Regions from separate parts of the Homo sapiens genome. Here region 2 is linked to region 1. The links come from fine-mapping of genetic effects on gene expression. A gene starts in region 1. The other region holds a variant in brackets. All regions are shown on one strand. Distances are from middle to middle.

Evidence for each region.
Region 2: its variant is fine-mapped to the expression of ZBTB5 in whole blood (INTERVAL, PIP above 0.99).

What each region holds. Positions count from the first base shown.
Region 1 is chr9:37,463,436-37,467,820 of GRCh38, forward strand. It overlaps ZBTB5 (zinc finger and BTB domain containing 5), which reads right to left and starts at 2,015. Exons shown (of 2, transcript NM_014872.3): 1 at 1,780-2,015. RefSeq lists enhancers at 937-1,622, 1,623-2,308, 2,309-2,994, 2,995-3,680 and a silencer at 1,843-1,942.
Region 2 is chr9:37,428,973-37,433,357 of GRCh38, forward strand. GRHPR (glyoxylate and hydroxypyruvate reductase) reads left to right here. Exons shown (of 9, transcript NM_012203.2): 6 at 760-864; 7 at 1,539-1,674; 8 at 3,036-3,166. Among named protein-coding and RNA genes, the nearest start is that of GRHPR, 8.5 kb to the left of the region's middle. RefSeq lists an enhancer at 1-70. The variant A/G (reference allele first, on the strand shown) is at 2,430.

The sequences.
Region 1 (4,385 bases):
AACATAGAATCAATACCTTGGGTTCTTTTTTCCATTTCCAAAACGAATGTGAGCCAGATTCAAGATTCTCTGTCAGCACTACACCAGGTTTTGTCAATTTCACTGAACACAAGATATTTTAAAGTCTCCAATTCGATATAATTCATGCTGAGTTCTTTAAGTACTATTTGATATCCCAGTGATTTTTTATTACTTCCACTTTGGGGACAGTCTTGTGAGTCTCTTTTGAGAGCGTTCGCTCCTAAGTCTGTAAGATGCCTTTCCTCCAAATCTTACCATTTTCAGAATTCTGCTAGAGACATATCAATTAACCAAAATCCAGCTTGCCAGCATCCTCAGCTAACTAAAAGTTATGTTTTGACACAACTTTTAGGGAAAAGGGGCAAATCTCTAGTAAACGAGTTGACTTCAGGACTCTTCAAAAAAAGAGTCTGTTTATTCAGCAAAACCCAAGGGCCCAAAACAGGTCCCCACCCAAGTAGTCTTACCTGTAAGGTCACCAAGCTGGCTGTGGTGGCCAGGTCAATCTTCCCAAATTTGATGAGATTTCCATAAGGGTTAAAAGGAAGAGTGAACGGTTTCCTTTGGCTTAGGGGCTTTTCTCTAAAATTCCTTGTCTTCTTCCCATCTGGACTTTTCCCTCTGAACTATTAGCTTACTGCCAACCACCGTCCCCACAGAAATCACAAGAGTTTAGGCAAATGAAAAGCAAGTTCTGCCCAGCCTTTTACATCTAAGCACAACAGCCCATACTAGGACAACAAATTACCAATGACTTAATGACTAAGGCACAGCATTCTCTTCAACCTCTAAAGAAAAGCCCGTAATGTCCTCTACTTAATACAAGTGAAAAATATGAGAACATGTTTTGGAATATTTTTGCTTCAATTTTTGAAGGTGAAGAGTTCCTTCTATTAATTCAAGTTAACTAGAGTCAGAAGATACTACTTAGTAATCAACTTTACTGTGCTTTCACCTAAAATTTTTCCTCCAAATTATTTAGGATTTGCCTTCTGTTCAGAAAATTAGTTTCCACAATATCCTTCACTATGCCAGAATGCTGACTGACTTAAAAAAAAATGACCATTATGAAAGGAAAAAACTAACCTTCAACACCCCTTAATTCACTGCCTTTTATTATTTACATACAAATCTGTCCTCCAAACAGGAGAAGATGGGACGGCAGTGTCTTACCACCGCATCCCCCACAGCTCCTCGCACGAAGCCTGGGAGTAGTGGGCATTCAATAAATGCCTATTAAACACTTCAGTCCTCTCATAACAAGTTGGGGCATTCCGAAACACTGGCTCCACCCCTCCAGGGTCGGCCGCTGGCTCCCGATGGCAGTCTGCCTATGGCCTTGCTCTGGTGAAATGAAACCTCGTCGCTCAAGACCCAGGATGGGGGCAAGGGAGCCGTCCGACCACATCCCGCAGGGCAGCAGATCCTCTCTTCATCCCGCCAGGCCGCTGGTCCTGAGGCCTTTCCCACCCCATTCGGGAACCTACGTCGCCAGCCGGGGATCCACAGGAGTACCAGCCCCCGCCCCACCCCGCAGACAGCCTGGCGTCGGGACACCGGGGACGCCTGCGCAGAAGAACCCGCCTGGCCCCTTGGCTCCAACGGTAACAATGCTCCCCTCCGAAAGACAGCCAGAGTAGTCCGGGGGCACCAGTACACGTCTGCGCGCTCCCCGACGCCTTGGCGCGCCCCTGGTGCTCAACCTTCCCCACGTGAGCGCGCCCGCCATCACGATACTCGCTGACGGGGTCTCCTCACCTGAGTCGGGCTCCGCCCCCCTCCTCCTCGCTGAAGGAGGCGGTGACCCCTCTCCGATCGGACTCGGCAGTGTCAGAGGAGGTGGGAACGTCCTGACCAGCGTCTCCGTTACGGGACTTCCTCCCCCTTCCACCCGCCCCCCTCCCACCCCGCCTCTAGTCCCCTAGCTCCTCCAGCCAGTTCGCCGCAGCACTCTGAGAACACGGCGGCGGCGCCCGAGGATAAGCGGAAGTGACGTAATGCAAGAGCGCCTACTCCGCCCCATTCCGCCTCTCCCAGTTGGGCTGCAACCAATCAGCAATGGGAAGGGCGGGGCCGGGGTAGGAGTGCAGCCAGCCGGCGCGCGGAACCTGGAGGAATTTACTTAGCCCCCGGAAAAACTGACCAATCCACGGTCCCTGAAGTCTGGTTGTGTTTACTACCGACTGAATCCGTGAGCTCTCTGACCAATCACCCTTTGCCTTACAACATGTAAAACGGTTATCAAATGCCTTTTAGGGCGGGATTTATCACTAAACTGCTCCAGGTTTGGACTATAGAAATGCGGCTGTTCGCTGCAACCAATCAAAACCCTCTGTGGTTTAGGCTAGCGGGCTTTCCGCCTAAATCCGCCAATCACAACAACGACTGCGTGATGTCTGAGGGCGCCGGAGAGGCGGGCCCTCAGGGCAGGCCGTACCGCCATTGGCTGGTTCTGAAGGATTTTTCCACCCTCGTGGTGCCCGGCGCTTTAGTGACCCAGGGCTCTTCTCCGGGGTGAATTCCCTTCGCTGAACACACACACACACACACACGTAGAGGGCTGGAGATTGAGTTCCCACTTCATAGACGTTGGGAAAGATAAGATTCCAAAAAGCTCTTTAGGTTTAACTAAGCCAAAGTCCAGGGTGAAAACCGCGAATAAAAAACGCTGTCCATCGGATGGCAGTTAGGTCGGACCCCGCCCCTCGTCCAGTCCGGGTGGCTGCGCGTCTGGAAACGGTGGCGCCCCAGGAGCCCGGCGCTTGGCCCCGCACTCGGCTGCAGGTCAAATAAGCCTGTAGTCTGCATGCCCAGATTTATAATCACCTGCACTCCCCCCACAAAAAAATAGGAAGCGCTAAGCTCTCCCACTCCTGTCCCAAACGTGGAAGGGTCGCGGACTTGTATGGGACGCGGTCTGAAAAAAGCGAGCCCCGGGGCGACGCTCGGGTTTCCAGGTGCACCCTCGGAGGGAGAACCCGATCCCTGAGCATCGGACACTGGGGCCAGGGAAGAAACCCCCTTTCCTAGGGTGAGGACGGCAGAAGAAAGCTGCCTTCTCCGGCGCAGCGTGTCTGGGAGCGCTGCGTGGCTCTGGAGACAAAGGCAGGCCCGCGAACTCAGCTGGGTTCTTCTGGGGGTGGGGGTAAGGGTCTTGGAGGAGCTCCCAGAAAAATGGAACTCCCAGCCGGGCGCGATGGCTCACGCCTATAATCGCAGCAATTGGGAAGGCTGAGGCGGGCAGATCGCCCGAGATCAGGAGTTCGAGACCAGCCTGGCCAACATGGTGAAACCCTGTCTCTACTAAAAGTACAAAAATTAGCCGGGCGTGGTGGTGGGCGCCCGTAATCCCAGGCAACTACTCGGGAGGCTGAGGCAGGAGAATCGCTTGAACCCGGGAGGCGGAGGTTGCAGTGAGCTGAGATCGTGCCGCTGCACTCCAGCCTAGGCAACAGAGTGAGATTTCGTCTGGGGGGAAAAAAAAGGAACTCCCCGCTTTAAGAATGGAACACACCGAATACCCCTACAGCAGATTCCATCCCTTCAGTTACTGGTCGGAAGTGTTGATTTCAAAAAGCAACCTGTTTGCGTGGATTTCTTTAAGGGCTCGGTGGAGTCTGATGTTTAATTCTTTTCCTTAAGATTCGCTGACACTATAGCCATCACACATATTTTACTGACAGATTGATCGGTAAAATAAGGAAAATATGGAATGATGACAGTAAGCCAGGCAATAGGAGAGATTCTTTTGCGTATCTGTCTCTCAACGGTAAATGCCATGACCTAGATTGCCTCAGATTTACAGGCTGGCAAAAGTTTTAAAAATTGTATATTCAGAATTTAGGAGTGTGTGGAAGTGGACACCCGCTATATTGTGGACGGGGGTGTCACTGATGCCCTGTTTGACGATCACTTCGTAGTATCTATCAAAATTTAAAATATGCATTTGTTCCCTTCTAGATGGTAATTCCTTTCTAGAAATATATGCTACCGAAATACAAAGATGTGGAATAATAAACCCAAGGCTGTTTACCACACCTTTGTAAGTACAAGGGGCGGGGGGGGGGGGGTAAGTGGACAACAAACCTAAATGTGTAACTAAAGAAGATTACAAAAATTTGATAAATATGTATCATGGCTCCTTCATGACTAAGGCTCCTATAGATACAAAACGAAAGTAATAAAACCCTGCGGCCAGGCGCGGTGGCTCACGCCTGTAATCCCAACACTTTCGGAGGCCGAGGAGAGTGGATCACGAGGTCAGGAGTTCGAGGCCAGCCTGACCAATATGGCGAAACCCCATCTATATTAAAAAAGTACAAAAATTAGCCGGGCTTGGTGGCTCATGCCTGTAATCCCAGCTT
Region 2 (4,385 bases), 34 kb before region 1:
AGTGGGCAGAGTTGATCTGCAGTTCTGCAGATGAGGCAGAGACACTTTTCTTCCAGTGGCCCTTATTTGGAGAAGCCTGGCAGAAGGGCGTGAGCCTAGCCAAGCAGCTATCTATTGGTGGTTCTCTGTCATCCTGCCTGGTGCAGGGGTGCGGGTGAGGGTGGAGAGTGTGGAGAACCTGTCTAGCCAACGAACAGCCCTGCCTCTCACTAGAGAGTTGCTTGGAGGAACCCAACAGCTTTGGGGCACGTTCTGAGCCTGAAAATCCAACTGTACAAATCTGTCTCAGCAGCAGCTTACATGAAAATTGTAAGTTTGGGGTGAGCTGGCAGTTTGGCAGTGCCACCAAAAAGTCAAATGGGGTCTGAGACTGCATTCACAGAAGCAGAGGGTCCAGGACAAAGGAGGGGACTGCTTGACCAGGTGTCTCCCTTGTGAAAACCTCTCCAGTTCTCAGAGGTTAGGAAAAACCTGAGTGGCTTTCCAGATGGCTTGGACCATGTGAGGACAGCATCAGCCAGTCACAGCCTCAGGGGAGCTGAGGTGCTGTCTCCAGATCCCTGGGGCAGTGTGGGCTGGCTGGGGGCTAGTTACAGTGGGGCAGCCAGCCCCCCACCCGCTTTGGAGGAGACAGGAGCAGGCAACTCGGGCTGTGCTGATGAAAAGGGTCTGCCCTGAGGGCCGCTGTTCCAGAAATGCTGGGTGGTGTCCCTACCCTTTGCGGGACTGGGAACGAGACATGGACTCTCCTTGCTCTAGGCCAGGCCATTGCTCGGCGTCTGAAACCATTCGGTGTCCAGAGATTTCTGTACACAGGGCGCCAGCCCAGGCCTGAGGAAGCAGCAGAATTCCAGGCAGAGTTTGGTAAGTGAAGCCTTGATTTCCACAGGAGCCTATCTGTGCCCAGTTGAGAGGCTGTATTTTCTCTCAATGGTGGCATTTTCAGGCAGAGGGCAGGAGCTCCAGGCATGTCCAGGGGCTGCTGTCTGGTAGATGTTTAATCTACCTGCCCCTGGACACTGGCCCACTCAGGGAGCACAGGGACTTACCCAGGTCCTCTCCGAGCCAGCAGAGCAGTCCAGGGCTCCCGTCTTTCAGAGTCCTTTGTTACCATTCCCCATTGTGGGCGGAGCAGCGGGGATGGTGGTGGGTGTGAGGAAGGGCTGGGCACTTTCACTGTCTTTTCCTTCATAAACTGGCAAGCACTACCCTAGCCTTTGTGTGCGCCCCTTAGTCCAGGCGGATCCAGCACCTGGCGGGTCCACAGCCTGGTGAGCAGATGGCAGGCTGGATCTCAAGCATTCCCCACGCCCCTGGGCACTTTGGGCCCTGAAGGTAGTTAAAGCCAGAGTGGTCCAGATCCCACTGTGTGTGATTTGACTTTGTGCACTCATGAGAGTTGTCCAGGTAGAGACTCGGCCTTCAGGAAGCATCTTGGGAGTTTCTGTTAGGGAGTCGGGAGCAAGGGGCTGGTCTCCCGCCATCTGGTTGTCCCTAGCCTGGGACTCAGTGCCTGATGGAGTCCTGCCCTCCCTCAGTGTCTACCCCTGAGCTGGCTGCCCAATCTGATTTCATCGTCGTGGCCTGCTCCTTAACACCTGCAACCGAGGGACTCTGCAACAAGGACTTCTTCCAGAAGATGAAGGAAACAGCTGTGTTCATCAACATCAGCAGGTATCCTAGGGCCACCTTACCCAGCAAGCCTGGAGAGGAGCCATCCCCACTGCTGCCATCTGGAGATTTTCTTCCCCGTGGGTTGTTGGTGAGACCCCAGGCTGAGCTTGCTGGTTTCCATAAACCAAACAACCAACTCAGAAATTCGTGGGAATACACGAGACCTCCGTACAGGGAAGAAGAGCCGTCAGAGTGGGCCTGGCCTGTCTGCTTCTCAGCAGTGGCCCCCACCCGGCGGGGCCTGGCACACAGCAGCGTGGCTTCAGGGAGTGTTCCCAGGGAGCCTCTGCAGGCCCATTATCCTCCACCACAAAGGGCTGGACTTGAGGATCTGAAGGGCCCTCTGGAGGCCGCCTCCCACACTGCTGAGCCTGGCTTTGTCTGGCTGTGGTTCAGTGATACTTTGAACCTTATGCTCCTGGGCGGACAGACCCTAAAACTCACGTGGTCGTAGCTCCTCACACTGTCCCTAGGGGTGCCTTCAGGCCACTGGGCATGTATGGAGGTCAGACCTTCCTTCTCTGCCACTCCAAGCCCTTCCTAGCTGGTGCCCCTTGAGCCTGTTTACATCAGTTTAGGGGAAGGGGGATTGGGTGAGGTCATCCTGAGGACTCGTCCACCCCAAAGGTACCTGTAATTACCAACATTTAGCTACAAAACAGGTGACCTGGGAATGGAAGAGTGAAACATGCAGGACCACAGGGCTCGCACTGCTGGCTGGCAGCAGTCACAGCTGCCGTGTACTGGGTGCCTGC[A/G]TGTACCCAGGACAGCCCAGGACCGTGTATTACTCATTAGTGCACAAGTATTACTTAGTGCACAATATACAGTCTCTAGAAGATGACTTCTTGCCTTCAGTCGCCGCTCCCTTTGATGGCTGTGGTTAGGGGTGTGCTCGTTCCTCTGCCCTGGTTTAGACAGGTACCTGATAGCACACTGTGGTGCTTCTCAGTGGGGGTCTGGGGGTCAACCAGATCAGAAACACTTGGATGGGGCCTAACACAGATGCCCTTCTGGGCCCTGTTCATGCAGTAGAGCATGTAAGAAAGCTTTAATCCTCCCAACATGCCTGGGAGTTAGGTGGTATTCTCCTTATCTCACAGAGTAGATAATTTGAGACACAGATAATTCGAGGCACAGAGAATTTGAGACACTTGCCCAAGGTCACACAGCTAGAAGGAGGCAGGGCTGGAGTTCTCTGAGTATATAAGACTTACAGACATACTGTAAGTATACCTAAGACTTACTGCTTTAAAAGTCAGTGCCAAGTGAGTGGAAAAATTCATTCTGTAGGTTGTTCTGCCTCAAAGGTGGCCTGGGCGGAGGGATCTTCGGGGTACCCATGTCACCACTGTCATTCCCAGGGGCGACGTCGTAAACCAGGACGACCTGTACCAGGCCTTGGCCAGTGGTAAGATTGCAGCTGCTGGACTGGATGTGACGAGCCCAGAACCACTGCCTACAAACCACCCTCTCCTGACCCTGAAGAACTGTGGTAAGAACTGCACTTTCTGATGCAAACTCCCTGCTGCCCTGCAGGACCAGTGTTTTTGAGGGGGTCCCAAGGGGCCGGGTGTGGAGCTAGTGTGAGCAGGTGTTGAACCCAAAGGGACACACCAGGGATCGTAAATGTTTATGTTGTCAGTGACATGGGTGTATGACAGGAGCAGTCCTCTTGCGCATGCTCTGCTGGGTCTCTGTCCCTAAAGGAACAGAATGTAGGTGTGAGTGGATTTGTTTAAAAAAAAAGAGTGGGCCAGGCGTGGTGGCTCATGCCTGTAATCCCAGCACTTTGGGAGGCTGAGGTGGGTGGATCACGAGGTCAGGGGTTCGAGACCAACCTGGCCGATATGGTGAAACCCCATCTCTACTAAAAATACAAAAATTAGCCAGGTATGGTGGTGCATGCCTATAGTCCCAGCTGTTTGGGAGGCTGAGGCAGAAGAATCGCTTGAACCCAGGAGGCACAGGTTGCAGTAGGCCGAGATTGTGCCACTGCACTCCAGCCTGGGTGGCAGAGTGAGACTCCATCTCCAAAACAACAACAACAACAAAGTGGGCTGACTACATGTCTCCATGTGTTACACCACAGTGACTCGTGTAAAACCTGTTACTATAAATTGCTATTACCAGTTTAGCTGTGAAAAATTAAAAGTGTAATGACAATGCCAATATAACTCGTGCCAGTTTTTCAAGCTGTTGTTTCACAACAAAGCCCCCTTCTCTCTTCTGCTTTGTGGGGCTGGGGCCAGGCCTCTGCACACCCCATTTCTGCTGTGCCAGCTGCACTGGCAGGCCTTGTCAGCGTGGGTGTGGAAGGGCCTGCTCCCTCCTGCCCTCCCTTCCTGTCTTTGGGGGAGTGGCAGCAGCACTTCTTCATCTAGCAGCACCAGTTCCTTCCCATAGTGGCTGGGGAATCCAGTTTGCAGTTTTTCCAACACTTGGTGAACCAGCCCCATTGAGCCCTGCTCAGAGACAAGAGCAACAGCCAGTCAGTGCCCGTGCCACCGAAGTCTGAGTTGCAGCACCAGAAGTGCCTCTGGCAGTTGCTACCTCTGTGCTACCACAGTGCAGTGGTTCTCACATTTTTTTTTTTTTTTTTTTTTTTGAGACAGAGTCTCGCTCTGTCGCCCAGGCTGGAGTGCAGTGGTGCAATCTGAACTCACTGCAACCCCTGCCTCCTGGGTTCAAGCGATTCTCCTGCCTCAGCTTCC